Linked DNA regions of Homo sapiens: region 2 is linked to region 1. Evidence: fine-mapped expression QTL. A gene starts in region 1. The other region holds a variant in brackets. All regions are shown on one strand. Distances are between the middles of the regions. Region 1 holds the start of DENND1B (DENN domain containing 1B). Region 2 overlaps DENND1B (DENN domain containing 1B).

Evidence for each region. PIP is the estimated chance that this variant, and not a neighbour inherited with it, causes the effect.
Region 2: its variant is fine-mapped to the expression of DENND1B in whole blood (INTERVAL, PIP 0.95).

Annotation. Positions count from the first base shown.
Region 1 is chr1:197,769,168-197,785,705 of GRCh38, reverse strand. It overlaps DENND1B (DENN domain containing 1B), which reads left to right and starts at 10,226. Exons shown (of 23, transcript NM_001195215.2): 1 at 10,226-10,567; 2 at 12,774-12,838. The coding sequence starts at 10,551. RefSeq lists an enhancer at 9,009-9,058 and silencers at 9,433-9,727, 10,019-10,218, 10,369-10,878.
Region 2 is chr1:197,725,689-197,742,226 of GRCh38, reverse strand. The region is part of intron 2 of DENND1B (DENN domain containing 1B); the gene reads left to right. It also overlaps the pseudogene RPL24P5. Among named protein-coding and RNA genes, the nearest start is that of DENND1B, 42 kb to the left of the region's middle. The variant G/A (reference allele first, on the strand shown) is at 8,956.

The DNA.
Region 1 (16,538 bases):
ATATATATAGTTTTTTTTTTTGAGATGGAGTCTCACTCTGTCACCCAGGCTGGAGTGCAGTGGCACGATCTCGGCTCACTGCAAGCTCCGCCTCTGGGGTTCAGGCCATTCTCCTGCCTCAGCCTCCCGAGTAGCTGGGACTACAGGTGCCTGCAACCACACCTGGCTAATTTTTTGTATTTTTAGTAGAGACGGGGTTTCACCATGTTAGCCAGGATGGTCTTGATCTCCTGACCTCGTGATCTGCCTGCCCGGCCTATATTTGGTCTTTATTAACTAGACTATAATCTCCATGAGGGCAGAAACTATATGGTCTCTAGTGATGAAAATAATACTAGTTTAGGCAAAGAAGCCAAACTTTAGCAAAGAATATTATTAGTTTTATAACCATGTAAAGAATATGTATCAACTACTCCTTGGCTTTGGGAGCCAAGACACATATGGTCATCTGGGAGAGGTGAAGGCATGCAGAAAAATACGCAAGATAGCTGAAAACAAAAGGAAGCTATCTTTGAAGGCTTTGTTCATTCAAAGGAATAGGGCAAGATCTGGATAAGTCAAGGGCAACTACATAGCATAGCCTAGAACCAGAGGAGGCAACTTGGAGAAGAAGTAGAAAACACAATGGGCAAACCAAAAAAGATGAGATTTGAACACTGATTCAGGGCAAGTGATTGAGCCCATCATAAAATAATGCCAAATCAATTCCACCCTAGCAGCTGGTTCTAGAATCCATTTCAATAATGTACATCTTGACTATGTACATGGCTTATCTTCATTGGCATTTTTTCCCTTTAGGCCCCCATGCTCCATTAAAGAACAAAACTATTTCACATATATTTTTTACATAAGGGTTAAAAACTGTATGTTAAGTGAAGTATCATACCACAAATACACAATAAAATGAATATAAAATGAAAAATAGTCAATGGGTTCATTAACAGAATCATGACAGATTTATTTTCAATTTGTATAAATGTCCATAGAGAATTATTCTTTAGTTTTAGTTTTCTATTTTCATCTTTAAGAACCATGAAATCCAGTTTTTGGACAAAGAGTTTCTCTAAAAGATGGAGTTTGTCTATAGACTAATTTCATTAGAAACGTTCTTTCAACATTAGCTTTCATTATCTGTAAAATGAGACAGTAATAGCAAGTAATAAAAAAAACCCAAATATCTCTTTCAGTTTCTTACATAAATGCCTTTTTTGTTGTTGTTGAGACAGAGTCTTGCTCTGCTCCCAGGCTGGAGCACAGTGGCATGATTTCTTCCTGCAGCCTGCACCTCCCAGGTTCAAGCGATTCTCCTGCCTCAGCCTCCAGAGTAGCTGGGACAACAGGCCCATGCCACCGTGCCCGGCTAAGTTTTATATTTTTACTAGAGATAGGATTTCACTATGTTGGCCAGGCTGGTCTAGAACTCCTGACCTCAAGTGATCTGCCCACCTCAGCCTCCCAAACTGTTGGGATTACAGGCATGAGCCACCATGCCCAGCCCATAAATGCCTTTTTTAATCCTCCAACTTGTACAAAAAACTGTTAAAGAAAGGTATGATTACAGAAGTGTTTAGTGTGGCTTATAATTCATATTTAAAGATATCAACAAGGTATCACCTTGACTGAGGATTTTAAAAAAATACGATATTAACAAGGGAGATGACATATGATAATAAATGTTTCTGAATTGAAATATAGACTCACTTGAGCTTTGCTCGCTTTTGATTTGAGAGAGAGAAAGCAAGAGTGAGTGAGTGAGGAGAGATGCATATGTGCTTTATGAAGAAAATGGCTTTTGTAAATGACTCAGTAGTATGCAGACTGACTTTTATTTCCTGGTGCCTCTGGCAGACATGGGAAAGTGCATTCTTCCACACAGGCGTTCTTGGAATAAAATGTCCCTGTAGAGTTAGCTTCCTGCTTCATCATTTATAGTACCTGTTTTACCTCCTAATCTATACCTCACAGAACTATTGAGAGGCCTAGCTAATAAAAAATGGTCATAAAGCACTTGGCAAAATCACAACAACTATAAAAAAGAATAAATGCAAATGTGGTAAAGCTTGTCTTTCTGGTATGTCCATGAAGTCTTTGTGCATGAAATGATACAGTGACTCAAATGTTAAAGTTTTTTTTTCTTTCACAAACTGGGAGTAGTTAAGCCAGCTGGTTTGCTGGAGTGAGTTGTTTCTAGCTCAATAGTAGGCCACTTGATTTAAAACCTTCCTACTAATTCTAATATTAAGCCTATCCTCATGAATTCCTGCATACATTATGTAATAATTAATGCCTGCTTATTTAAAGAGGAAGTACAACATGTTTGTGTCAAAAATCAGATAGGCATATAAATGGGTTGTGTAGTAATCAATGGCTGTACCTACATCATCACAGAATCTGAATTAGCAGCACCTATTTGGTAGTTTTATTAAGTAACCATAGGGAGAACACAGTATAATTACTATGCACAGTATACATACTAATGTCATATGTTCCTGATCCACAACTCAGTCCAAGAGGGAAGTGAAGGGAAGGCCCAGGAAACAGCTGTGCAGCAGGCAGAAAGAAGTCACTACACACTGATGCAGTAATTTTATTAAGTCACTTGCATACAGTCAGGCAAATGGACAGGATCATGGGTCCAAATTCCTCCTTTCCATTCCAGCCAAGCCCAGCTGTCCTGATTGGCAGTCTCGAGAAGAAGGGAAGAAACTTCTGGAATTATGCACCGTGAATGAAGAAAGTCAGGTGAGACTGCATCCTTTTTACAAAGGAAACATATAAGTTCTCACCAAACTAAGAAGACGTTGATCAGTTTCACAGATCCTTCTTTCTGTTCCTTCTTTCCCAGAGAAGATTACAAGCAAAAATGGTCTTACCAGACCATTTTTTGGCAAGTCTTACTTGCCTAAGACTTGGGTCTGTGACATCAGAAACAACAGCAGAGAGAAAGATGATGTCCATACTTTTGAAGCCCAGAAGAACTCTCAGTCCTTGTTCATTTTTATCTTGTTATAATTTGCAATAGTAAGAGATGGGGAGAGTTTGTCATCTGTTTTGGAGTTACAAGTCTCTGTTTCATATGAACTTGTGCTGTGGAATTATACCATTTGACCTGGTATTTGACTGAGTTCTATTTGCTGGAATGTTGCACTTTTCCCCTTCTAGAATTGATCATATACAAATGCATGTAATGTTTGGCTAGTTATTTTCTCATATTTTAGGAAAGCAAAACTTGGCACACAGCAATTTGTTTTGATAATCTCTCTATTTACGTTAGGATTAGGGTTGCTTATGGGGCTGCTGATTTTGTTGAACTATTATCATCATGTTAGATGATCATTTATGTTTCCTTCCAGAAAATTCTAATGACATTGCTCATTGGATGTGATTACTCATTCTCCTGAGAGTGTTAAATGGGTGTGAGCAGAGCTGCCATACAAGGAAGACTGTATTTACGTGGAGTATCTTGTAGGTGGGGTTGGGAAATTATTTCCCATGCAATGCCACATGGTTACACAAACACAGCACTCTTTCTTGAAGTCCAAAGGAGAATCCTCAAAGAATCTCTGAAGAAAATTTGACTCCACTGATTACCATCTGTTGGTGACACTCTGCTTCAATTATTCTTTGTTCTGAACTCCAAGGACTGTTTTAAGTTCTACAATGTCTGGCAGATTGAGGAACAAAGATAAGGGAGAACAAGCAGAAACTGGTCAGAGGTAAGAAAATTTATTTACAATTTTTGGCAAATCACCTGAAAAAGGCAGAAGAAGATCTTTTGCTGTGCTGTATTATTTTTGAGAATTTTACTGTATTTTCTTACTAAAAGTTTAACAGCAAGATATACAAATATCATCATCGACCCATTGAATTTTAGAAATATTTGGATATGTTCAGATTTGGTAGTAAAGGTGTCAAAATTTATCTGAGTTCTTTTGTCCACAAACTGGAAGACAACATTTTTATTAAACTGGATTTTAAATCAACATAGAATGCTAACTCTATGAGCTTTGAGGTGTGAAACAACTCAGAAAGGCAAACTTTCAGGGAAGATATTGATCCCGAATCCCCACCTCCATCTTCTCTTTATTTTAAAAGTATTTCACATGTCTTGTTGAGGGAGATTTTACCTTCAGATTGAAATTCATGATATTGCTGCTAAGTATAAAAAGGACAACATGCCAGGAGGATGTTTTCCTTAACAACACTATCTCAGTCAATATTAAAAGGCAGGTCCTGATAAAATAATTTAAAGATAGTTTCCTAAGAGCTTCAATAAATTCAGTTTGTTAAATACTTTATAACTTTTCTTCTATAATAAATGAAGGTGGTAATACTATTAATAAATTTCACCTAAGAATAGTAATAAGAGGTTGTGCAGAGTTAGTCTAGGAAATGCCTGACTTGGATACATGTTAGCTACAACTCATGAGATGCTTGCCTCAAAAAATTCATTTCTAAGTTAATTGTTTGGAACTCAAAATCTTCATATACATTGGTGAGGCTTATGAGTCTAGTCGAGTTAATTTATACTGAACCTGAAGCATTATTAATAGTATTATTATTTTTAAAAATACCATTCTAGAGTTTACAATAGTGTTTATTATTTCGCATTCAGAAGGGAAAGGAGCTGTCAACTTTAGTAGTCCTGGGTATCAGTAACTCTTCACTTTTGTTTAAGGCATATTACTACAAGGATTCAATGAATAAGTGGTTGGGGTTGGGAAGCCAGGAGTTACCTTTCTAATTGTCATAGTACACTGGAAATCAGGGCAGTTGGCTCACTAAAAGCCCTGAACTTGGGTTTCTCTACACCATTAATATATAGGGATATATAAGTTGGGGACTTTTTGGACCTGGTTTGAGGAAAGTGGACCTTATTAGGTGGATTAAAAAGTTGCAATTAGTCCATTTTACATGACACTATAGTCAGAACCAAGTAATTATCCATTATAGTCTGATCAAAACTTGCATGAAAATCAACTAAAAATTCAGAATTAAGTATTTTTAAAAGCTTGCAATGCATTGAAGAGCAGGCAATCAAGTGAGAATACTTAGGGGTGGAGGATGGGGGACAAATAAAAGTAGCTACAAGAGCCACCTCTCTCTGTAATCCCAGCACTTTGGGAGGCCGAGGTGGGTGGATCACGAGGTCAAGAGATGGAGACCGTCCTGACCAACATGGTGAAACCCTGCCTCTACTAAAAATACAAAAATTAGCTAGGCGTGATGGCAGGTGCCTGTAGTTCCAGCTACTCGGGAGGCTGAGGCAGGAGAATTGCTTGAACCCAGGAGGTGGAGGTTGCAGTGAGCCAAGATCACGCCACTGCACTCCAGCCTGGCGACAGAGCGAGACTCCATCTCAAAAAAAAAAAAAAAAAGAAAAGCCACCTTTCATCTTCATCTTTAGGGTTTTTCCTAAGCTGGATGAACTGGAAGACCATGAACTGTTATCATGGTCTTATGGGTCTTCAGACCCTTCCTAATGTGGGAAATCCAACAGGATACTCTTCATAAAGCTGATACACCCCAAAGGTATTCAAGGACAATTGTCTCAAACAATGGAGCATAGTTAAGGGGAAAAAAGCTTCCCAGAGGATTCATAGCTACAAACCAGGTCTCACATGAATGGTCTGAAGAATTTCAAGCTGAGAATTTAGTGTTTATGTTTCTGAATTGCTAGTGATCCCAAGCATCTACCAGCAGTAAATTAATATCTTCTCCAGAGAACTCATTTTCATTTCAGCTGTCACTCAATTTCTATATATAAAGTTCTAAGGATCACATAACATAAAAAGAAATCACATACATAGAAGAAATCAAGAGACCATAAGTATGAACAAGTAGAAAAAAGATCAGTTAGTAGAAGCAGACCCACAAATGCTTCAGATATTGGAATTTTTAGAAATAGAATTTAAAGTATATATATTAAATATTTTTAATAAATTAAAGAGATGCTGAAAATATGAGTTAAGAGAATACAGATTTGGAAAATAACCAAACAGAACTTTAGAAATAAAAATAATATAAATTAAAAACTAAATGGGTGACTTTGACAGAAAATGAGACAAAGCTGAAGAAAGAATTAGTGAACAGAATATTTTTGAAATTTTCCAGAATACAGCGTAGACAGATAAAGAGAGACATACTATAAAAGAGATGTTTGACAAACATGGAGGGTAGAATAACACATGTGTTATCAGAGTCCCAGAAGGAATGGAAAGAAAGGAGTCCAGAATTTTCCAGAACTGATGAAAGTCACCAATCCAGAGTCAAGAAAATTAAAGAAACCAAGAAACATGGATGAATAAAAATCTACACCTAGATACTTCACAGTGAAACTATAGAAAACTAAAGACAAAAATGAAACATCATAAATGCAGTCAGAGAGAAAAAACAGATGACATTTTAAGATTACTTTCAAAGTTCCAATTGTTATTAGGGAACTTAGAAGACAGTGTAATGATATTGATAACATGCAGAAAGAAATAATAGTAAACTTTGAATTCTTCATCAGTGAAAATATTTTTCAAGAGTGAGGGATAAATAAATACATTCCAACTCAAACAAAAAGGGAAAGAATTTTAGGCAGAAGGAAAGTGATCCTACACAGAAGATCTAAAATGAAAATACAAAAGAATGGTAAAGTTCTGAGTAAATCTAAACAAACATGGACTGTATAAAACAACATTCATAATGCATTTTTGGGGGGATTTTAGTTTTGAGGGGGTTTTAGAGGTTCTTGTATTGTTTGAGAGAGGGTGGATATCCTTGTGAACTCTGGCTTTAATCAGTTAAAATGTACCTATTAAAATTTCTAGGATAACTCCTAAATGAATAGAAACAGAGTAAATAACTTCCAAACTAGAAGAGGTGGGGGCAGAAATGAAAGCATAAATAGTAATCCTAAAGAATGCAAAAGTGAAAGAAAAAAACAGATCAGAAGAAACAAACGGGAAGTACAAAATTAGATGGCAGAAATAGATTTAAATTTATCAGCATTTTTCTCTCTTTTTTTTTTTTAATTTTTTTTAGACAGTGTCTCACTCTGTCAACCAGGCTGCAATGCAGCGGCATGATCTTGGCTCACTGCAACCTCTGCCTCCCAGGTTCAAGTGATTCTGAAGCCTCAGCCTCCTTATTATCTGGGACTACAGGCTTGCACCACCCACCACACCCAGCTAATTTTTGTATTTTTAGCAGACAGGGTTTCACCAAGTTGGCCAGGCTGGTCTTGAACTCCTGGCCTCAACTAATCTACCCGCCTTAGCCTCCCAAAGTGATGGGATGACAGGCATGAGCCACTGCGCCCAGCCTAAATTTATCAACAGTTTTAATACATGCAAATTGTCTAGGGGTTTGATGTAAGAGCTAAAGATGATCAGACTAGATTAAAAATCAAGACTAAAAATTTTAGATAAATTTGAAACATGATGGTTTAGAAAGTTTGAATGTAAAAGGATGAAAAGAGATATCCTAACATCAGACAAATACTATTCAGAAGAAAACTGTTTAGAATCTAAGGCAAAAGTACGATTGGAGGTAAAGAAAGTAACAACATAATGATGAATGGTTGTATTTATTAGGTAGATATAGAAATTATAAACTGATGTGTATATTATTACACAGCCCCAAACTGTGTAAGGTAGAACCTGAAAGAACTATAGGCTGAAATAGAAAAATCTACCATCATGTTGGGATATTTAAACTCATCTCTCCCATTAATTGAATTATGTCAAGCAGATGCAAATTCAGTAATAGAAGATGTCAACAACACAATCATCGTATTTGATCATGGACATATATTTAGAACACTGTACCCCAAAGCTGCAGAATATATATTCTTTACAAACCACATACAACATTTAAGTCTTGAAACATTTAAAAAATTAACTAAATTAATTAATTAATAAGAAATTAATTAATAAATAAAGACCATGTTCTTTGACAACAATACAGACTATGTTCTTTGACTGGTATGGTCCTGAAAACTGTTAATATTAATTGTCGAGTAGGAAATATCATTGCTGAAATATGATCTTGGGAAGATTTAAGACTAATTTGAAGGTTTGCCCTTTGTACACTTCTCTATCAGTCATATGGGAAGTTCTATATGAAATGAGTATTACTAAAGTTATACCATCGATTTCATTAAAGCTATTACCAAGGTAAGTGTATGATATTTGTTTTCTAATTTTTTAACACCTCATGCATGTAGATCATGTACACCTATGTTCCTATCCCTTTTATTTCAGTAATAACAGAACAGATAAATCTCTTCATTATGGTCAGCCTAAAAGCTCACTTAAAAAGATTTGCTTTGGGATGCGAATGTGTAGTATTTCCCTCGATGTACTTAACATAAATGGAATGAAGAACAATTTTATACTGTTCAAGGGTATGACTGTCATTTAAAATAAAATCCCAACAATGGATGAGGAAAACAATTGTATTATTATCTCCTCACACCAAATTAAAAAGTCCTCAATATGGTCACCCCAAGTAGGGTTCCTTTCTTTGGAAATAATTAATTATAATGAAAGGAGAAGTTTGAGAAATTCAGTAACAGTTGGGGCAGAAGTGGCTTTTAGCTTACGAATTTTTTTTTTCAAGGCTTTGGAGTATGGTCACTTATGCAGAAAAATCTTTATTTGGGAAAAGAAAACTTATGTAGTATAGTTTGCCTAATTGTGAAACTGAAATTCACAGAATAATTTCTCAAAAGATAATACAAATTTGTAGCACCTGTTTTACTTGAACATCACACTGCTCATGTGATGTACAAGTAATAATTCCCATTTTACAAATGTAGGAACCGAGAAACTGAAGTGTCTCACCCCGAGTCAAGCTATGACAACACTTTATGATAAACACATTTTTTTTTTGTTTGTTTGTTTCCCAGTTATGGCCCGTCCTCATTTTTTACTAACAGGCCCATGGCTATACAATATTTCTGATCCTGTTGACCAAGTAGTACCCAATTTTGGCAAGAAAGTTTAAGGTTATATAACTGAGTGCAACTTCAGGTTCTCTGACTCTTGAGTTTTTTAATTCTTAAGACTCCTTTTCTGACTTTTATGTCTTATGACTCACACTACATTCATACCACATTTGGTTTCCTCTCATCATCTTAACTTCTGCATGAATAAAGTCTGAAGTAACCACCTTTTGGAAGAAACACTGTGGCTATGTGTCAAGGGTGGCAGTGTTAGCTGGGAGAAGGCCTTTCCCAGAAGATCTCTGTGTAAGAGCCTGGCCTTCCACAGTCATTTGAATGTCCATCATAAGACTTTTCTACCTGTCTTCTCAGTAGATCCTAAATATGAGACAGCAGAGGAGGGAGACAGGCAATATGAGGTAGAAGTAAATAATCAGCATCAGATAGACCTGGTGTGAACTCCAGCTTTGCCATTACTCCCTGGTTTCTTCATCTGTAAAATGCTGATGAAAGTATCTATCACACACCTATGACAAGTACTGGGTGAGAGTGCACATAACCTGCTTCACATGTGCTTTAGGGCTGTGTAAATCAGTCCCTCCCACGCTTATTCAGTGGTGCCCTCTCTGAACTCGCCTAAACTGCCAGACTATGAGGCCTGCGACTATGTACATGTGTTCAAAAGTTAGTCCTTGGTTATCACTGCAGTCTGTGGTATAGGAATGTCTGCCTCCCACATGCGCAGACAAGTGGGGCACTACCATTTGGCTACTTGACAGGGCTATTTAGCAGGTGCACATGTCTGAACATTCCTGAATCAGGAGGGGGTAGCTCTGGATTTCAGAGAGCTGTAAGCAGGCCACAGCTGGAGTGACGCAAGAGCCAGGGGCATCAACTTGAGCTCTGAATTTGTAGTATGAAATGAAAGGAACCCAAGTCCGTGTGTATGTGTGTGGAAAACACTGCAGGTCGAGGTACTTTTCCAGGTACTTCGCCCTTTGTGGGGTTGCAGCCCCGACGCCCTGGAATCTGGACTGGACCCAGAAAGGAAGCCGGTTTGGTTCATGCTGAGGACACAGGGGGCACCTTGCCTTTCTGGCTAGGTGGCAAAGCGGTACGTGGGCCATCCCAGCAGGCACTAGCGCTCCCCCTGCACCCTCTGGCCGCCCGGGCGCGGGGACCTGGCCCCCGCCTCCTCCACAGTCTCCGACTTGCGAGCCGCACGGCCCAGGTGAAGCCGCTGGGCGCGTCCCCGCGCGCCCCTTCCCCCTCCCGGCGACTTCCTGATTTGCAAGAAGGTGCAGGAGCCGCAGCGGGCGGCCCCGGTCGCAGGAACTGAGAGGCCTCAGCTTTGGTGGCGGCTACCGGCGGAGACGGGGGCGGCGGCCACGCCACCGCTGCTGTCACAGAAAGGCTCTGGTGGGTGGGGTGGGAGGCGGGGAAGTGCCGGGGGCGCAGCCGACATGGGCCCGCCGCCACGGCTGCTGTGAGCAGCCTCTTTCCCTGTGTGGCCGCCGGCGTGGGCGGGGACGGCGCGACCCTCGCGCGGCCGGGCTGCGGGCTTCCAGGCCAGCGCGCGGGGGCCGGACGGACAGCCCCACACCGACATGTAACCATGGACTGCAGGACCAAGTGAGTGGGGGGGCCCGGGCGCGTCGGGGGCGGGCGTCCCTCGGCGGCCCCTCCCAGGCCAGCTCGGCTCCTCCGCGCCTCCGCGCTCAACCGGCTCCCCGGGCGGCCGAGGTTGGCCGGGCGGGCTGGGGGTGCGGTCCGGCCCCCAAGCCTCTGGCCGGCCGGCGGGACGGCGCTAGGCCGCAAAGCCTGCCCGCCCTGCGTCCCCGGCCCTCCGTGGTTGGCGCGGCTCCTCCCGGAGAGGCCACTAGCGCCTTGTCGACGCCCGCCTTTCGGGGGACAGGGGAGGCCGGGCGGCCCCTGACACCGCCGCTGAGGGGTTCTCGTGCTTCCCCCGAGTGTGTCAGATGTGACTCTCCTGGGGCTGCCTGTGTGCGTGTGGTGTCCGGGAGGGAGTCAGCGTTGAGGTTAAGAGGTTATTATTCCGAGTGCTCTCTGAGCATTAAATATAACCGGTGTTTTCTTAAGTCCGTTTGTTACTTTTGTCTTGGATGTTTTCTTATGATTCTGCTTATAAAATTAGATTGGTCTCTGGTGTTTCTTTATGCAGCAACTGTAGATGCATGGTTCTTGCAAAACGGTATCCAATTAGAGGGTACTTTTATGTGTGTGCTAAAGTATTTATCAACGACTACTTTGCTCAGGAGATTAGGTAAAAAGCAATTTTAATAACGGTGGTGATTTTGTTTCTAGGTATCTTAGAGGCATGAGTTTTATATTTTTCTTCTGAAACTTAACTTTGGAAAGAATTCCTTTTTACTTCGCTTACCCACCCTTTACTATCTCCTTCTCAAAAAGTTTAAAATAATGCCATGTATATTTGTATTATTGTGAAAGGCCGTTTGAATTTCACAGAAGTAAAACTGAGTCAATATTTAACTTTTACACCTAAGAGAAATTCTAAAGAATATTAGGGAAAGAGGGAAATTATGTAATAGAATTATTTTCTTCAGTGTGTTTGACATCATGGTGGGCAGGGTAAGTGAGTAAAAATAGTATGCTTCTTGACATTAATTGTTTTAAGAGGGAGGAAGTCATCTGAGCCCAGATTATTCCCATTGAAACAAGTTAATAGCGGAAAGGCTAAAAAAATGTATATTTGCATGTTAATTTATATGTCTTGTCACTTCCTATGTTTCCAGATTCATATCTTATAAGAAAAGCTTCCAAAAAAAGAAATGCTTTTTTTTAAAGTCAGAGCTGGCATTCGTTTCTTGAAGGAAGTACATATTAAATACAGCCAATGTACAAAGGCACTAAGGTCTTGTTAGCAGGAATAACTGAGATATTAACACATTGGCCGTTGTGGTAACAGACTTAATCTTTTACCTTATGATGGAACGAGAGATTTAAACAGCAATGTTATGAAGAAAAAGTGTCTCAGTATATTTCAGTTCACTTTTTGAAATTTAACCAATGTTGCTTTGAAATTTTGCAAATATGGCAAGTTAGTAAAAAAGTCAATAACTTCTGAATTAAGCAAAGTAAACTTACAGTTTCTAGTGGGAAAATCTAACATGGAAGCAGATGGCTGGTTTCTCCAAAGATAATGGATAAAAAGAAGGCTTTTTATGTTGCTAGCCTTAGAGCTATGAATAGTTTGCTACTTTAAATATGCATAAGTACAGTAAATACATTTTAAGAAAAGTATATGCAACGTATCACATTCATGGAGCATTATCAATGTTTTATGGTGATCTAGAACTTGGCAGGTGGAACCATGTATTCATCATTTACACTTATATTGCAAGTCCTTTGGAGACAGCCTGAGAACCTGTGTCAAACTCTGTTGGCAGGGTATAATGACACTTAGGGACACTCTGGCTTTTAAATTTGATCCAATAAGATAAAACCAATACTTTGCATTTTTGTAGCACTTAGTACTTAATGAAGTACTTGCACATATGTTATTTGATTTATAATCCTCACTATTATTCTGTGAAGTGGACAAGGCACCTCATAGGTAAGGGAGAACAGTCTCAGCGTTTAAATGCTTTGCCCCAAGTTTCAGAATTCCTAAGTCTCAGCTCTTTTAAGTTGCTCAATTGAGAAAACAGTTTCATTGTTATTTCTACTATACTGTAGTAATACAGTCACGTGAAATGTATTGAGACAAAAACAAGATTAGTTTTAGAATTAAGAAAATACAAGTTTCATGGAGATGTTTATTTGTCATAGGAAATTAATTTAAACTTTTTCCTTTTAGGGCAAATCCAGACAGAACCTTTGACTTGGTGTTGAAAGTGAAATGTCATGCCTCTGAAAATGAAGGTATGTGTCTTCTGTGTTCTGTTATTTGACAAGGTCTCTTTTTTTTGGGACAAGATCTCATTCTGTTCCTCAGGCTGTGCAGTGGCATGATCAGGGCTCACCACAACCTCTCCTTCCCGGGTTCAGGTGATCCTCCCACCTCAGCCTCCCGAGTAGCTGGAGCTACCAATGCACACCACCATGCTCAGCTAATTTTTGTATATTTTTTTGTGGAGACAGGGTTCACCACGTTGCCCAGGCTGGTCTTGAACTCCTGGGCTCAAGTGATCCACCCACCTTGCCCTCCCAAATTGTTGGGATTACAGGCGTGAGCCACTGTGCCTGGCCTGTTCTGTTAATTCTTAAAATAATTGATTGAATCTGTCAAAGCAAGTGTTAATATTGTGGACTGCTGGAACATGGTAGTAATAGGAAAATAATACTACTAAATGTGTATTCTGCATTGAGTGTCTCAAGTTGCTGGTAATAAAATAGGTGTTAAGTCTTTGCCCTGGGATTGTAAAAATCATGAATGTTATCAGTGCAGCTTGAATTTCAGGTGTGTTGTTAAGCCCATATAACTTACAACTCAGCTTCACCATTCGTTGGTAAAGTTATCATTAGTTTTGGTGAAAGGGCGAATCTTTTCATTTTCTTTCATTTATGTTTGGAAATTTAGTGTCTTTTTTTAAACATTAGTGCACATTCTCCTGCTAGTACCAATGGAAACTACACCACTTCCCTTCTGATGTTTCCAGAACGCAGAATGCAGACTGAGTAGCCCCTTCTGTTGGATTTACTCCAATAGCACAGCACTTTTGCAGGGAGGTAAACGATAGTGTGAAATTACTTGGAAGGGTTTCAGCTGTCAGTTCCGTACAATTTCCTGAAAAGATGAGAGCATAATACTTTAATGTCATGATTTTCATCATTTCCCTCCACTTTTGTCATATTGTGTATTGTGCATATGTGTGGTAGGCGGCAGGGTTAGCAGACAAGAATAAGGAATTCTTTTCTTGCCTATTTTCTTTTAATGTGTTCTTGCATGGTATGTCTTTCTAGATACTTAAAGTATATGTCTTTACTTGCTGTGTGCTTAGACCCTGGATAGCATGATGATTAAGCATAGGGGTTTCGTGGAGACTGATTGGCCATCCTAAAGCCTTGGAGGAAAGTCTGCTGACAATTTTAGCTTCAGAAACTATCCAGCAATTACCTACTCTTAAGTAATTTGGAGCTGCACACCTTAAAATAGAGAAGCCCAACCCAGTTGTGGTGAAATGGGCATGGCTAATTTTAGTATGAAGTCACATATTGTTGGCTCCACCAGCCCTACTACTGTACTCCTGGTCTATCTGAACTGCAGCTGTGGTCAGGTTTGTCTATTGGCAAGGAGTGATCCTAGGTTGTAGGGAGCCTTTTCTAGTTGATGAAGTTATCTTTTATTGTCCTGTATGTAGTAAAGTTTGTCCATTTGCATTATTTTGAGCCCCAACCGGGTCCTCTTTGAAGAATGGATATATTAGGTAGAATGGATACTCAAATGGATACATTATGTTTTCAGCTCCAATTTAATTCTATTCTATAGTGGTTTATGATATAAGTTAATCTAAAAAATATCTACCACAACATTACCGAAGGTGCGTGAAGTAACGCTCATCTGATATTGCTTGTAAAGGCGTGGCACGGTGGCTCACGCCTATAATCCCAGCACTTTTGGAGGCCGAGGTGGACAGATCATCTGAGGCCAGGAGTTCGAGACCAGCCTGACCAATATGGTGAAACCCCATCTCTACTAAAAATACCAAAATTATGCAGGCATGGTGGCCTATGCCTGTGATCCCAGCTACTGGGGAGGCTGAGGCACGAGAATCAGTTGAACTGGGGTTGTGGAGGTTGCAGTGCGCCGAGATAGCACCACCACACTCCAGCCTTGGTGACCAAGTGAGACTCTGTCTCAAAAAAAAAAAAAAATCTATATAGATATATAGATATATTTATAGATACATATATTTATAGATATATATTTATAGATATATATTTATATATATTTATAGATATATATTTACATATATATTTATATATATATTTATAGATATATATTTATATATTTATAGATATATATTTATATATATTTATAGATATATATATTTATATATATTTATAGATATATATTTATATATTTATAGATATATATTTATAGATATGTATATTTATAGATATATATTTATAGATATATATTTATAGATATATATTTTTATATATATTTATAGATATATATACACACACACACACACAACAGGCTAATTTCACTTGGAAAATATGGATTCTCTAATTTTAAATGTGTATTAAAGTGATCTTGTTAAAAGATCAATTTGCCTTATATAACACCCAATCTATGCATGTGTCAGAGAGATTGTGGTCTTCTTATAAAGGCTTTTGAGTGGTTTACTCCCTTCTTCCTCTTTTTGCTCTTTTCCACTTTTCATGAGCTAGTTATTCCAGTTTGTATCTTCTACTTCTGCCCTGCTTTAATATTACACCTTGTCTTTTTGCTGTTGTTATTTAAATCACTACTTTTTAGAAACATCTTCATTTGTATTTTAACAGTTTATATCTAGCCTGGTAAAGTTGTAAATATGATAAATGGTTAAAGTAAATAATGTTGGCTTCTTTGTAGGTTGCAAATAATCCATTCTATATGGCTAAATGGCAGAAAATTCTAAAGATATTTTAAAAAACTAAACTCAGCCATGTAAGCAGCAGTAACCTTTCTTCTTTTATTATGACTTAAATAGTATGAATATGGCTAATATTTTAGGATCTAACAAGTAATAACTATAATCAGTAACTATAATAAATAACAAATGATAAATTAGTAGCTATAAATAATAAAATCAATAACTATAAGAGGGCTATAAAAGTAAATTTTTTTGCCAAATTGAGAGATTTATGTTTCTGTAATATTTTATCAATGTTCTACTTTACAGCTAAATCTTAAATAGAAAAATATATGAAAAATATTTTAAAAGTTATTGGAATCCTCATATTTAACTGTTAGTACCTATTTGTTTTAATGAGGCTCTGATATGTGCATTATCAGCTTGTTTAAGGTACGATAATTTTTTTTTTGCTAACATTAAATGATCATGGGTGAAATTCTTAAATAGTAATAGATTGGAAAACAAAATGTATAAATTAGGATGCTTTGGAGTACAAACATAAGATTGGTTTAAATAATAGAGAAACTAGAGAAACTTGATATAGTTCATACAAGAAGTCGTCAAACATCGATATAGTTCATACAAGAAGTCGTCAAACATCCAGGTGCTTTCTGCTTCTCATTTCTGCCACTCACAGTAATGGTGTCATTGGAGGGCTTAGATTTCTTGCGGTTATAAGACTGTCAGTGGAAGTTGGAACTCTGCTTTTTTGTTTGTGACTCTGGGGGTGACAGACACTGGCTTTACATGTCTCTATTTAGAGCCAGAAAGTTTCTTTTTTCAAATCCCCTAGAAAGCCTTTCCTTAGATCCTGGTAGCCTAAGTTGGCATGCACCTGACCACTCCTGAAATTATCATTGGTGGGGTAGAGGTAAAGGGGTTGGTGGCAAGACTATTGTGATTGATTTATTTAAATTGGCAATGAATAGATGTTGAGAAATCAATTAAAATGCTTTTGTTAAAGAACTTTTAGAATATATAATTTTTTGTTGACTGAT
Region 2 (16,538 bases), 43 kb after region 1:
GTTATTTACCTCTAGGTAAACATATGCCTACAGTTGATAACATAAAGCATTTTATGAACTGAGTTTTTGAAAGAAAAAATTACTAAAGAAATTAGATTGCTATGTTAGATGGTATCGACCAAGACTTGAAATAGTGCCATTGTATTATATTTAACATTTCTCCTTGTAATGTAAATTTGTGTACTAATTTACGGATTGAAAGGGATTTTACATATATTATTTTAAATTAATTTTGATTTTCTCAGCAACTCTCTATGTTAGGTTCAGTAGCTATCCTCATTTTATTGAGCAAATTAAAGCTCAGTGAAGTTCTTCCATACTTAAGATTCCAAAGTTATAAAGTGGAAGAGCTGAGACTGCAAATCGAATCTCTAAATGAAGTTTAATGTTCTTTCTGCCTTTCTGCATACCATAGGTGTGGGTTGCCACGTTTATTTTAGTTCTTTTTTTTCTTTTTGAGTGTATGTAGTTTATGCCCATTTTATTCATTCTGTGTATAGGATTATGAAACTGAAATTTTAAATTCTTTACCTGGTGAGATTGTATAGATACCAATGTTTTAAGTTTTGTGCCTGTTAAATATTTGAAACTACTTTTAGAAGTTTTATTAAATAGTAAATCTTTGGTAATGGCATAAAAGGTATGTTTTTGTGTTACTTTATAATTACTTTAAATTGTCAATTTGATAATTAGGTTCAAACGATTGTGCAGAAATGTGTTAAAGATTGTGTATTGACATTCTCACATTAGGCTTGTTCTACTTTGAAGATTAATATTCTAACATTAGAATTTTAAAAGTATATTTGTAGTTTAAAACTGCTTTAATGATTATTTGCTCTATAAATATGCATAAATAAGGATGGCATCATTGTAATCGCTTTAAACCCTTTTTTGGGTAATACATCCTTAGTTGGGTTGAGTTGGAAGTGATGATCTTTGGAATATGCACATGAATTAATTGGTTACTCTATCTTGGGATATGTCAGAAGTACTACTGCTTCAGTGAGAGGACTCTGGCAGGAGATGTTATTTTTTACCAGCCAGCGGTGTTTATCTTGATTTGAAGGAAGCAAGCTTTATCAACATAGAGGATAATGATTTACTTGTCTTATCCTTTCTCTTTGTAGCCTAGAGAAATTCCAGAAAATAGTCTTTTTTTCTTTTTTAGGAAGAAAATATAGTCTTCATATGAAAAGCTTTGTGTGCTTTTCTGATCAAAATACAGAAGGATTTTTATCTTTTGATCTACTAAATTTACTTATCAACATAGGTGTTAGCTTTGCTTTTCACTCCTTCCTTCAAAATTGTAGGACAGAAATTTGGAAGTCAGGAAAGCAAGTGAATGTGACAAATGCTTATTTATCTTGCAAAAGTGCTTCATAAGTATAGTCTTTTCTTCAGCTTGTCCTTCATACCATTGATAAACTGGACTTTAAAGAACTTATTAATGAAGGTGGCAATTTAGTTCTGCCTGAACCAACAACTAGTTATATGATCTTGCATAAATCATTTTTCCTTTCTTGACTCAAGTTCCTTCAGGTAAACAAAAGCTATAGACTATCCAAAAGCCCCTTGTAATTTAAACATTCTGTCATTTTAATTGTATTATTGTTTAGTTCTTCAACTACATTATCAACTCACTGAAGCAAGGATTTCATCTTCCTTTTGATAGTTTTCAAAATATATTGTGTAGCATATTCGATACAGTAATAGAAATTTGTCTACAACCTCAATTCTCAAACCTTGACTTTCTGAGACTCAGTCTTCCCCATATAGGGATCTCTTGCTCATAATTCCTTTTTTATTCATCCCTCTGCCTTTTCAAATCATTCAAATAAAAGACTTGCCAGGGACCCACAAGGCTCCATATAACTGGCTCAAATCCCCCTTGTTTACATTTCTAACCTCATCCTTTCCCACTTTTCTCCCTTGCTCTCTTAACTGCAGCCACACTGGCTTCTTGCTATCCCTGGAACAACATCAAGCATGCTCCTTCAAGGGTTTGCATTTTTTGTTTACTTCTAATACACTTTCCCAAGATATCTGCACAAGTAATTTCTTTACCTTTTTCAAGTTTTTGCTCATTGTCAGTGAGTCTCACTTTAACCAACTTAACAGAATTAAAATCGCACTCTCCTTCCTTTTGCGCTCATAATTAGGTTATATGCCTGCCCAGCCCCAAATCAAACACAAGTTCAGGGCTGTAGTGATTGTCTTTGCTGATGCAAAATTATATTTGATAGTGCAAAATTTTCATAGGGTAACTGAAAGGAACTGTTAAGAATATCTTAGCACATTACATATTCTAATTTAGAGGTAAAGGTCTGATTTCTTAGAAATTGGTGGAAGCATTTTAAGACTCAATTATGTTTTATTAAGATGAAATCATTTGCTTATTTTCCATCTGTATATCTTCTTTGGTGAAATGTCTGTTCAGCTCTTTCTCTTATATTTTCTTTATTGGGTTGGTTTCTTATTACTGAGTTTTGAAAGATTTTAATATATCCAGGATACAATGACTTTGTTGGATTTGCATTTTTTTCTCCCATCTGTATTTTGTCTTTTCATGCTTTTAACTAACATTGTCTTTCACAGAGAATAGTCCTTTCTTTTGATCAGTTTATCAGTTTTGTTTTTATTTTCATTTAGAGTTCATTTAGATTTTCATTTCCTTTTGATTTCTTCTTTGACCGTTGGGTTATTTAGAAGTATGTTATTTAAGTTACAAATATTTGGGGATTTTCCTGTGATGTTTCTGTTATATTTTGATAATGTAATTCCAGAGAATATCATGGTATGGCTTGAATCCTTTTAAATCAGTTAGGACTTGCTTTATGGTGCATTATATGATTTCTTCTCGTATATGTCCCATATGCACTTAAGGTTTTGTTTTAGATTACAGTTAAGTTATTTGGAAACAGTTTGAACATTTGAGGCTTGCTTTTAAGCTTTGGTAGGTGAAACCAGAGTCATCTTCAGTCCAGTGCTGATTTTGTCCCACTGCTAAGGTGTTACCCTCTGAGTACTGTACAGGATACTCTTGTTGATTATGAGGTTTTCCCACTCTGGGTGGTGTGAATGTCAGCTGATCCTGGGATTTCCCCCCCATTTCTTTTGGGTGATTCTTTCCTCAGTGTCTGGTAGTTTCCTCATATGTGTGCACTGATCATCAGCACTAAAGTCTTGGGTGGGTTGGTGGTGAACCTTCTGCAGCTCTCCAGAGCTCTATTCCTGTGCAGCTTCGTCTCTGTTCTCTTTGTGGAGTCTAGATGCTTTGGCCTTCCAACCTCATCTCAGGAAGACCACTGGGCTCTGCCTGGGTTTCTCCCACCTTGTGCCACATCCTGGAAACTCCAGATATTAAGACCAATTGTAAGGCTTACCTTGTTTGTTTTATCTCTGTCAGGGATCACTGTCCTGCATTTACTAATGTCTGAAAATTGTTTAATGTATTTTTTTAGATTTTTAGTTGTTAGAGAGAGAGCAAATACAGTTTGTACTTTCTCTTGGCTGGAAGCAGATGTCCTGTTTATGGATGTAAAAGTGCTGCTTTAACATTCTGCATCTATGGTTAGAAGAAAAGCTATGGTAACTAAGTACATGGGTAAATAATGTTTGGGAATATAGTTACCATGGAAGTTCTGAGGATCTTCTGTCATCTTTCTGCCAAAAAGTGATTCTGCATCAGCATCTTCCATGTTGTGTTTCACAGTTAATAACCCAAGTCTTCTATGAGAAAGAAACTGGCCAGATTAGGTCATGTGTTTGACTTATCAGCTCTGGCCTGAGGTCACATTCACCAATTGTGGATGCAACTACTGAAAACCCACCCTGGGTATAAGATGTAGTTCCCAGAAACGAGGGAATTGTTGTGACCTGGCTGTCATTCTCTATGTGGATTTAATGTTGATATTTTTTGGCTTTGAAAGGAAAATACTTCTATGTCTAAATGAGAAAAATAGCACCTTAAATTCAAAATTCAGCATTGGTTCAAAATCATTTGTCATGAAAGCTTCTTTTCCAGTTATAATATTAGATACTCCCCTTTGTCCTGTTATATAACAGAGGGTACTCATGCATGCTAATTCATACTGGATCAGTGACAGAGAGGAGAAGAAATGTAATAAACAGGTGTCAGAGAAATCTGTGTAAATACAGTTGAAGGGGAAAGTAAATAGGGACAATAAATTATAGGAAATTAGGAGGCAATCAAAACCTGCGGGAAGAAAATGAGCTGGGTTATCTGCTTCCAGGTCAGATATCTATGTTACCCTCTCCTTTCTAATAAAATTTCAGCATAATACTGGAAATTTTATCTTAGAACTAAGTAATGCTTTATTTCCTCAAGGTGATTGGAAAACACAGTTCTACCAGACTAAAGGGAGATGTGTATTGTAACTCAACAGGAAGACATAGCTTTACTTGTTTTTCTTTTTTTGAAGCAGAATTCTAAGTATTTATTTTTAAATTCACCAATTTTTACATAATTAGAATCTTGAGGCTTCCCTACCTGTAGTAAATTAGATCCTGGATACCTATGTGAATGTTTTTCTTGTCTAGCTAAGAAAAGGCCTAAAAATGAATAAGAATCATTGTTGCATTCTCACCGTAATGATTAAGTAGGAGAATCTCCTATAATGCTTAGTAGATAGAGGCAAACAAGTCTAATAGAGTGCAAAAAATCTCCTTGTTTTCAGGGGCCTGTGGAGTTTTGTCATACCTCCAAGATGGAATGTTTAATGTTGCTAGACAGATGTCCACAAGTGTTTAGAAAGAGCTGCTATTCAGTGTTTGTCAGTATGTGATTTAGAGCTATAGATGATTTATTGAGAAGTCAGGATCCTGGGACATACTTTGATTATTTTAAGGATGGAGGTGGGAGTGTAATCTACATTTTGGAAAAAGTTTCCCAGGTGATTGTTATGCATCTGAAAGTTTGAAGCCATTGTCTAAAGGAATAGGGCTATGGTGGTGCTTAGATCCAACCACTTCGACATAGGGCAGATGATTTTCCCACTATTCTGTTGGAGATGTTGCTGTCAGGTTTATTGGTGTGCTGCCTTATAGCTGATTGTAGGAAAGGAGCAGTGTCTCTGATATGCCCTATGTGTGCAATTGGAAGAACTGGGATAGAGTTAGGAATGGATGAGGGCTTATCAAAGATGAAGTATGATTTAGACTCAGAATAGGCTTTTTTATGTGCAATTAGTCAGTCTTCAGTGATTTTCAAGAGACATAGCAATAGTTTTGATGTCTTGCATAAATGCTAGTATTGAGAAATCTCATTTATGAAGTAGTCTCAAAGAGACATTCAAAAGAATAGATGCTTGGGTGTGTACTCAGCAGTCGCAAATAAAAAGGAAGCTGTTTTCAGAATGAGTGGTATAACAAAAATCTGAATAGCAGTCTAAGAGAAAGGCAAGCAAGATCAGTAGAGCCTTGGGGCTAATGAATAGACATTCCAGTACAACAGGAATGCAGTATGGGCATTTGTAAGGAAAGGTTACAGTAACAAATTTATCACAGATTATCTCAGGGATGATTTTTATGACATACATAGAATTTATTATTTTAATTTAAAACATAAGAGGCTGTGCATGGTGGCTCACACCTCTAATCCTAGTGCTTTGTGAGGCCAAGGTGTGAGGATTGCTTCAGGCCAGGAATTCAAGACCAGTTTGGACAACATAGTGAGACCCTGTCTGTACAAATTATTATTATTTTTTAATTAGCTGGGTGTGGTGGCACACGCCTGTAGTCTTAGCTATTTGGGAGGCTGAGGCAGCCTCAACTGAGGCTGCAGTAAGCTATGATTGTGCCTCTGTACTCCAACCTGAGCAAGAGAGCAAGATCCTGTCTCGATAGATAGATAGATAGAGAGACAGACAGACAGGTAGAAAGAATTGGGCAAACCATTTAATCCCAAGTCTCAAAATGAGTAGATCTTATGTTATCTCTGACTCAAAATTTTTGCTATTCAAGTTCAATAAAAGTTGGAATCTGCAGCTTAAAATTGAGCTTGAAATCAAAAGAGTGGGTTGTTTTGCAGTATTCCAACCTATATTTTCTTTTTTTTTTTTTAAGTCCAATATTTATTTAAAAATCTAATCTGCCAGTTTAGCGTTTTCCACCAACTCGAGAACTGAAACTTTCACGGGCTTCACAATCATTTACTTAGGTGCTGCCTTTGTAGGTGCCTTAACAGCAGCCATTGCAGTGTTTTTAGATACTTTGCTTAGCCTTTTTTGCTTCCTTAGCAGCCCTGATACCTTGTTCTCGTTGAGCCTTTCTAACTTCAGGTTTCTGATTCCTCTTGGCCATTATATCAGCAGGAGAGGCACCTGTAATAGCCCCCTGCAATTTGACTGCTCGGCAAGTTCTTTTCTTTTGAATTTCTTCCAATTGTCCCTTTTTGTGCTTCTTTCTGTAGAGGACAGTCCAGCTTATCTGCCGAGGATTCCCCCTGGAAAAGTACGCCGATTCGCATTTTGCATTAAGAAACTGGAAAACTTTCCTGTCGGTCCTGGCGTAGCGCCTCCCGTGTCCGGGGTAGACCTTGTACCGGCTGAAACCGCATAGCTCGACCTTCATGGCGGCAGCTCCACGGGAGGAGAAAAGATGGCCCCAACCTGTATTTTCGAGTAATACCCTTTAGAATTCATAAAAGTCTAAGAACACTTTGTAAATGGAATGTTTCATAGTTCACACTAAAGTAAACATAAACTGTTAAGCAAAACTTTAGATCACTTCTTCTAACAAAGGAAATGTACCCGAGAACCCATGAGAAGTAGCTTCAGAGTATTTTTTTTTAACAGTGAATTCTCTGAGGTCTTGGACTTTTAAATTTTATTTAGTTTAATTGCCAAAAGCCAAGGTGGAGCTGTGTAGCATTCTGAGGAAATAAAACCACTTGAAGCAGAGGTATAGTAGAATAAAGCCATTCTGCCTCCAGTATTTGGGTGGATGTATTTGGTACTGTAATCATTTTACAGATTGCTAATTCATTGATGTAAAAGATACTCAATGGTAGGCATGTTGGACCCATTCAATATTGTTTTTTGTACCTTTCTGTTAACTTTTGTATTATTCATATATAATATAGATTTAACCAAATCTATTTTCTTAAAATTGCATATTATTGTTTTATGAAATGTTCTTTTAAATTTTGTTAAAATTTTGTCCGCTTTTTCTACAGAAGTAGGAATGAAATATTTAACATTTTCTGCCAGTTCTTACTTATCCACTGTGTTCCAGAGTCTTTAATTTAAATATTTTTGTTTGCCAGGCTTAGATTTTCATGTGTCTATTAAAAGAGTAGGAACATACTCCTCCATGCCAGACATCTGCTATGTATAAGCATTGATTATTTTCCCCCTTATGAATAAATGTATTTCTTTTGTTAAGTTTGTTGTAGGTTAAAAAAAAAGCATATTTATGTTTCTCCTAAAATTTGGGAAATCAATTTATATTACTCTATGGAGTATGTAACAAATGATGTATTCTTTAATTCTGAATCCTGTATACAGTAGTTACACCCTTATCTTTCATTAATTGCTGTCTGTTTGTAGGGTTTTGAACTATTCTGATTATTTTGCAAAGTTTTTTTTTTTAAATTACGAATGTAATGTATTGCAGTCAATTTTGAAAGAAGGAAAAAGATTTTTCTTTTTATACCAATAACACAAAACATCTATTTTTGTGTATTCCTTTTTAGATTTCAATATGAGCTTATTAAATGTGGTTGTAATCATATATAGTTTTCACTTAATTTTCAATATTTGTTGTTGCTATTGGTTTAAATTACAAAATATTTCATAAACTGCAGCAGTCCCCAAAGCCCCTTGTAAATATTCATGAACTCAACCATAACTTAATATACTTGAGAGAATTATCTTTCACTACCATCATATGACTGAATTTAAATTTATCTAATGTGTTTAACTTTTTACAGGTTAAAAAATTTACAGATAGTTTTTATAAGAATGGTTTGGTTTATATACTCTTTTCATTTCTAAGTTTTAATCAGTTATCTACTTTTTAGTTTACTGTTTCTCTTCTGTTCAATATTTTAAAACTTATTCAGGAATATGAAAAGATATGACAGTTTTATTTTGACTTCTGCATTTTGATTGGGTCCTTCAGTGAAAAATACAGTAGCAGAATTTCTAATGATAAATATTTAATGTAAATACTGCAAATAAAATATAATTTCTTGTAATTTTTTGAATGTATCTTTTAGTTGCACAGATTTTTAAATGCAAGAGATTAGAATATCATAAATAAGCCTGTGTATTATTTTAAGAGCACGTATAGAGGAAGGGGTTGTATGTTGGTAAAATACATTTACTGACCCATGTGTGAATTGGTGACCAGGATTGTTAAAGCATTGAGTTCTAAAAGTTTTTCTCTTATCTTTATGTTCAACAATAGAAAGTTTTACCGTATGGTCAAATAACATCTTCATCAGGTTCTCAACAGGATACCTTAGTTAATTTTCAGCTGAGTGCTTGACAGGATTTTCTCTTTGGCTAGCTGGTTGGATGAGAGTCTAGACACTGAGAGGCCAGGCTTTCGTGGGGCCTCACAATATCATTATTGTGCATGTTGAGTAGGAGCAGCTTCCTCTGATGTAGGGGCTCCATGCCCAAACAACGAAGACAAAGACAGAGCTTTTGTTCTCGAAGAGAAGAGCTAATCCGACTGCTGCACACTGTGAAAAACCTTTTATGAGAGAGGAAAAAAAACTTTCCTGGAAGGTGAAGGGTTAGCAGTTTAACCTCTGACCGTAAAATAAGCTGGTAAGGGGGAAAAAGTGTTGGGTAAGGTAGAAGAATAACAGGAGAAACATTCATCAAGGTTTGTATGCTGTGTTTATAAAAACAGGTTAAGCAAATAACTGTCAGGGGTGGATACTTGAGGTCTAATAATACATGCATATTTCTAATTTTTTTTTGT[G/A]CTTATTCTTAAACATAGGTGTTTAAACTTCATAATTTGAAGAGTGTATATTGCAGACCACACTATAAATGCAGGAAACAGTAGATGTCTAGTATTTACTCTTTTTCCTAAAAAGCTCCATTATAGACTTCTGTCAAGTTCTGAATATTTATTTTCTTGTTGTGTGAGTACAAAATCTTGATCCTTTTTCTTCATTGTTTTTTTCCCCAATTTCCTTGTTTAATATGATCATGTTTGTCTATAGAAATAAAGAAGTAGGACACTGCATATCTGCGGTACATAATTAAGACTCTTTCCAATTTGGTATTTGGCATTTTGATACCTATTCTGTTGATACATAGGTCTGGTGGGCAGTGTTATTATACAACTCCTTGGAGGAGATGGTTGCATCTTAGTGTACAAAGAATCCGGAGGCTCTGTCTGATCTTATATTGGCATTGTCAATACCAAGAATGTAGTTACAGTCCATTTAGAGGTGATGGAAGTTAAGTTGCTAGTAACTGTGTCATCTGTCTGCTTTTATTTACCAACCTGGACTAATTGCTTCTCCTCTTGTCAGTCACATATCAATCTTGAGCAATAATTAAGGTTTTATGCACTTGGGCTTCTTGCTTGGATGTATTAATGTATGTAACTTATTCCTGAGAATAACTATGCATATGGGGAAGCAGCAGCTTATATTGTATTATTTGAGTCATATTCTAAGGATCAGTCTGCCATGGTGTCTTTTAACTAACTTAATGTTTCTTCTATTATTCCGATTCCCTTTGGTAACAATACACATTTCTTCCTGTAGTTACCCAGTTTCACTTTTACCATGACAGAAAATGAGGAAAGGAGATAGAGAAGGTGACAGAGAGGAGAGATTGTGCTGGCCATTGAGTGATAATGAGGTAAGGGCAAAGAGATAAGTATAGAAAATAGAAGTTGAGAGTGAGTTGAAGGAAAGAAGAACACGTGAAACACATAGGTGGGCCAGTTAGGAATGGGTGGTGAGCTGTTGTGCAGCACTCTTAAGTTTTGAACTAATAATTAGTTGACCATAAATGTAAAAATTTCTTAAGGAATTACTCTTTTAAGACAGAAGTATAGAAGGATGGCATTACAAAACAAGTGACCAGACTTGGGAAGGTCCTGGGTGAGGGGAGGTAAATTTATATGAAGAGAAAGAAAGAGCCAGTAATAACCTACCATTTTGCTTAATGCATTACCTCTGTTCACTATGGTCAAATTTCTGCATCAGTATCTCAGCATTTTTTCCATCTCGCCTTACAATGATGAATAAAGTGATAGCGAATAGTGATAGTGAATGCATATAATGATATAGTGAATATATGTAATCTCCACTCATCCTATCAACATCTCTCAAGGTGGGTACTGCTATTATCACTACTTTACATTGGAGAAAAGTGAGGCACAGAGTGCTGTGTAGCTTGAGAAAGATCATGTATAGCAAGCTTGTCCAACCTATGGCCTGCAGGCTGCATGTGGCCAGGACAGCTTTGAATGTGGCCAAAAAATTCATAAACTTTCTTACAGCATTTTAAAAGTTTTTCCTTTTTTTTGCTCATCAGCTATTTTTAGTATATTTTATGTGGGGCCTGAGATGATTCTCCTTCTTCCACTGTGGCCCAGGGAAGCCAAAAGATTGGACGCCCCTGGTGTATAATGAGTGAATGACAATGCATGGCATGTCTATATGAAGTTTGACTTCAGTATCCAGCCACGTAACTACCATGCCGTGAATGCTTTAAGAATTCACTGAAGATATAATTATATACTACTGAAAGTTTTAGACTTCAAATGATAATCCCCCAACTCTTTTATTGTTTTACTTCCTTACTACTTTTTTTTAGGACAACCTAAATGGGAATTAATTGCTCACTTTCCTAGAGGATAGACTAGTATTAGAATATACAACAAATATAAGCATATTTTTGGTCTGAGGTCATGAATTTCAAATTTATTCTTTTTCTTTCAGTTTGTTTTCCTGCTATAGTTTCTCAGCCAATAATTATTTTTCTAAATGTGTGATTCTGTTTGTTGTTCCAAAGGACATAATTCTTCTCTTTATGAGTTCTTTGCTAATCTGTTTTAATCCTTTTGGATGTCTCATTTTCTCATTGTTTCTTACAAGTTGTGATGTAAATACTCTCAAGAAGTTACCAGAATAAAGTAGTGTCTGCTATTCCTCGAAACTTTCTAGTAGCCAGTATCCTCCCAGATTTCAGTTGTCCTTTATGTTGAATCATGAAGTTGTCATATGGTAATATCAACATTATGGGCTCTAGTAAGCTAATTTTTAAAGTGATCAACCCTATTCTGAGATTGTATTTTCTTTTGATAGTGTGCCTATAAAATTCAGACATCTCAAAAATGTCAAATAATATACATATATAATTTATATATGTACCAATTCTGATTAAACAACTTGTGTCTAACTTATTTTTTTAAAAGTTCTTAAGGTCAAGGAAACAGGTTTAATAATGTCCATGTTCATTTTCTTTTAAAATGTTAACCTTAGAATCTGCAAAATTAGGATTAATTTTCCTGCATTTAGTGTGGCACATTTGAAAAAAATTAGATAAAAACTATTTTCAGTCTAAAAGCCACCGTAACAGATTAAAAAATTCAAGTAGCCCTTTACTTTAAACATGTGATTAACCGTAAAGAATTTTTTCTTTTCCAATTTAAGTTCCCATGTCATAATACAGAGATAAAAAATAATGGCCCCCTGACACACCTTATTTGGCTCACATGGTATTCATGAAATGTTTAATTATTTTTCCCAACTTAAAAATTAGGTGATTTTGTTTTCATAAATATTCTGGATTTTCTTGAAAAATCAAAAGTATCTGTCAACACTGGGCCCACATTCCACATGGATGGAGCTGAATAATGGTTGCTTTTTTGGGAAGGGGAATGGGATCTATTTTTTACTACATGTCCTTTTATAGTCTGTCTTTTGTAGGCTCACTCTACTCATTTTTATTACCTATATATCCTAAAGGCATTTAACCTTGAAATCTCCCCTTTGTCTTTTCTACCTGTAAAAAGGGACTATATTTGTGTAATATATAAGGTATAAATAATTATACCTTGACTTTTTCTCAGGTTTTAAAGAAAATCTTAATTAGAAAACAAGTTTTATACCATACATAAAAACATTATTTTAATCTGTTTTTAAAATTCTTTGTGATATACCTCTGGCTCTCAAAGTGTAGTCTAGGGGTCTGTGGCGGTTCCCTGGAGTACTTCAGGAGTTCTGTGAGGTCAGAACTTTTTTCGTAGTAGTGAGGCATTATTAGCCTTTTTCGTTCCCATTTCTCACAAGTATATGGTAGATTTTTGCATAGGCTTCAGGACATGATGAAGTTATAACTCTGATGACTAATGAAGTGTGTACTTGAAGATTTTTGTGCTTTACTAATTTTTAAGTTTTGATTTTTAATACATAAATGTCATTTACTATAACTCACCTAAACAAAAGTTCTTTGACGACCTCAGTGATATTTGAGAGAATAAATCAGTCCTGAGACCAAAAAGCTTGAGAGGTACTGTGCTGTACATTATGGGGGCTAACTAAAAACACGTCAGTGGCAAATGCCCAAGGATAATTTGTATAATTACTATTTATTCTACATGATTACTATTTAATTGCCTATTTCTTTCTTGAAGTATGGGGCTTTCTTAATTAGTAATAGCTTTACTCTGCTCATTTGCTTGTTATCTTTAGTGAAAATATGTAGTGAAAATAAGGGCAGATCACTTCCCTCTCTTTGGTGTTAAGGATTACTTGATTTATTATATTACCTTTAAATCAGAATTGATCAGGTTTATGTTAGGGTAAGCCAGCTACTTGTTAAAATAAGCACATTAAAATAAGCAAATAAAGTTTATGACATTTACTGTGAAAAATTGATATGATAGGGAATAATTTTATTTGCATTATATATATCCATTGAATGGAAAGAATGGAAAATATACTCAATAAAAAACTGAAAAAGCTGCCTTTATGAAGTGTACATTAAAATTTGAAACATGATTCTGGCTTTTAGGAGCTTTGTTTAAATGAGGAGACACAAATAAGATGGTTTGGTAGCGATGGTTATTGTCTGGAAGTGGGATAGTCTGTGTGGTTGTAGTATTTTGGGAAGGTCTCATAGCATAGATCAGGAATAATGTATTGATTTTAGAGAGACAGAGAAAAGTGAACATAGGATTTCAGAAGGGGGTGCAGCATGTGTTGGAGTATAAGTAAATCCTTGAAATTGGGAATAAATTTTATTTATGTGAAAAGACACTGGGATTGAGTAGAAAATTTGCATTGGAGTTGGTGGGAAATACATTTAGATAGGTAGGATGGAATTGGGTAGGAAGTGCAGAATTTTGCAACACTGGTTTTAGTATATGGAGTTATGTTAAAATTTTAAAGTTCTATATGAGGCATTAAATATTAACACAGTTTGATGAGTTGGGTTTTGTTAAGCAGTAGTGAGCCACTGAATATTGTTCTGTGAAGGGAGGAATAATAAGAACTCTTAAGATTAATTTAGTGGCAGTGAGTTGAGAAGAGCTGAGTGGCAAGAAGACTAATTAGGCAATAAGAATTTAGAGTAAGATGAATATGGAAGAGGAGGAATGGATGACAACTGCATTTCGAAGAAATAACTAACATGGTTAGGCAGCTGATTAGACGTAGAGGATGAAGGCGTGTGAAGGCTGATTCTGAAACTTTTAGCATTGGTGTCTGGGTTCCATAGGTAGAGTGAGAGGGATATGATTCAGTGTTGGACACTAGTCAAGGGGATGTTGTAATCAAGTCATTGGGAAAATTGAATTTGAGATATAGAATTTTTGCTTCATTTATGCTTATGAATATCTACAAAAACACTTAGTTTTAGATATCACATTATATATTATGTTCTTGTTTTTAGTCCAGTTTAAAACAATATTTGAAACTTGAAAAATGGCAGAAGGTTTTTAAAAGGCTTGAGAAAAATTTCTTTACAGAAAGATTTGTGGCAGTAGTTTTCAACCAGAACAGCACATAAGAATCACCTGGGGAGTTTTTAAACAATTGTAGATGTGTCTAGAATGGTATTGGGTGGGGTGAAGGGTCACTTTTTAAAAATTTAAATGATCTTCCTTAGATAATCTAATGAACAGAAAGGGTTGAGAACTGCTATGTAGATATATAGGAAATAATTTGTGAACAATGGGAAATAGAATTTCAGTAAAAGTTTTTGAATTTGTTTTAAATTATATGTAGGGGCGATCCATTTTTTTTTTTCACAGCTCTTCAACAAGAGAGAAAAGAGTTAAATTATCTTCTGAGATATTTAGTTGGACATTGGGAAGAACTTTCAACTATTAGTTTACACTTTAGGAGGGAAGCTGGGAGATTTGGAGCAGTCCCTGTATATGTGTAGAATATAAAAGGATGTGTCTTTTTTTAGTGGAACATAAAGGAGCCTGCCATGTAGGGAGAGGAAACAAGGTCTCTTGTGATCCTTCTTACCGCTGATCTAAGATATATGGCAATTTTGTGTAATGTCACATGACAAATTATCTTTGTGAACTTGTGTTTGCTCTTGAATTCTGCTTAGTAGAATCCAGTCCAATTGGCCTCAAAATCAGATCACTGTTTTCTATTAGAAATACATAGCATTTTTAATATAATTCCCAGTAACTTGATAATTATATGTTTTCTTTTTCTTTTTCTTTTTTTTTTTTTGAGAAGGAGTCTCACTCTGTCTCCCAGGCTGGAGTGCAGTGGCGCGATCTTGGCTCACTGCAAGCTCCGCCTCCCGGGTTCACGCCATTTTCCTGCCTCAGCCTCCCAAGTAGCTGGGACTACAGGTGCCTGCCACCACGCCTGGCTCATTGTTTGTATTTTTAGTAGAGATGGGGTTTCACTGTGTTAGCCAGGATGGTCTCAATCTCCTGACCTCATGGTCCACCTTCCTTGCCCTCCCAAAGTGCTGGGATTACAGGTGTGAGCCACTGCGCCCGGCGCTAATTATGTTTTAAGAAAAATGGGTGAAAATTACTGTAGGACTTAATTATTAGTAAGCATGTTCAGACTAATAGTTTTCTGCCCCTTCAAGGAAATGATTCTTTTTGCCAGTATCACAGTGTTGTATTTACCAGTCATAATCTTGACCTCAAAGGTTAATGATATTTATCCATTATTAGTTTAAGGAAATTCTGGATATGATCAGGGAAGATTTTAGCAATAAAACAACATATTTAATTAGAAACAGAATAAAATATTCACATCTCTACTTTCATTTGCTTTTCATTCTACATCAACAGAGACCTGTGAACTGAAATGTAATAGCTATGTTGTGTTCATTTTATTATTATAGTTTTATGTTAACAAGTTTCTTAGTTTTTACTATGAACATTTGAAAGGTGTTCCCCACAAGTCCTTAGATTTCTCTAACATGAAGGTATAGATGACATCACATCACATTGATATTTAGAATCAGTTTTTTTCCAGCTTGATAACCTCTTGAGTACCTTCTGGGTCTCGATCCCATTTTGAGGTATTCATTCTCTTTTAGTATTTCTGTGGCCCTCCAGGGGTATCTCATAAGTACTGAGGAATTGCTTGTCTACCTCAACTACTATGCTTCATGCCTTTGCTCTTAATGTCTCACTGCGATTATTTCCATATCACTGATGCAATCATTTGTCTAGACCTTGTTTTAGTGCTTCACCTAGGATTATGCTTCTGACTTTGGTGGGTGCTGACAGTGATATTCACCCTCATCTTAGCCCATTGTTTGAAGTATATCCTATTTCATTATTGCTGCACTTGGCTCCTGGACTGCCATTCATAATGATGTTGCTAGTCACAGGTCTTTGCAGTTTTAATGTCATGTGATCCTTCACAGCCTGGGTTGCGGTTCTGCAAAGTGAGTAGGGAGGGCTTCTCATCATCTATGTTGAAGTTCTGCAGATCTAGAACTCATTTAGTTGTATAAAACACGATTCTTTTCTTTCCAGAGTATTTACATGCCAGCAAGATCACTGGGTCCACGTCAGGTTCATAAAACACCCACTATAATCTACTGGGAGAGTTTCCATTGGACTCTTGGACCCTTATTGCCCTTGCCATGAATTCTGTCTCAAGAGGGTAGATCATCTTGTAAATTTTATGTTATCTGCTTCCTTCCCTGATATTTTACCACAAATTGTCTATATATATGTGTATGTGTGTGTATATCCATATGTGTGTATATATATGTGTGTGTGTGTGTATATGTATATATATATATCTGAGTCATTCATATATATATGAATGATGTAAGTTCTTTTCCTAAGAGGTTCATTTTAAATATTATCTGTAGCATCATAACTGGGTTCATTATTTTATTACCTTTCAGTTTATACTCAACACAGAAGCCAGGGTGATCCTGTTAAAATATGTCAGAGCATGTCTCCTCTCTATTCAAATGCTGCTGTGGCTCCCTTTCCCAGAGTGTAAGCAGGTTCCTTTTTATCACTCTCAAGGCCCTTTATGTTCTGCTTGTTCCCCCTTAACTCTCTGACCTCACCTTGTCTCATTATTTTCA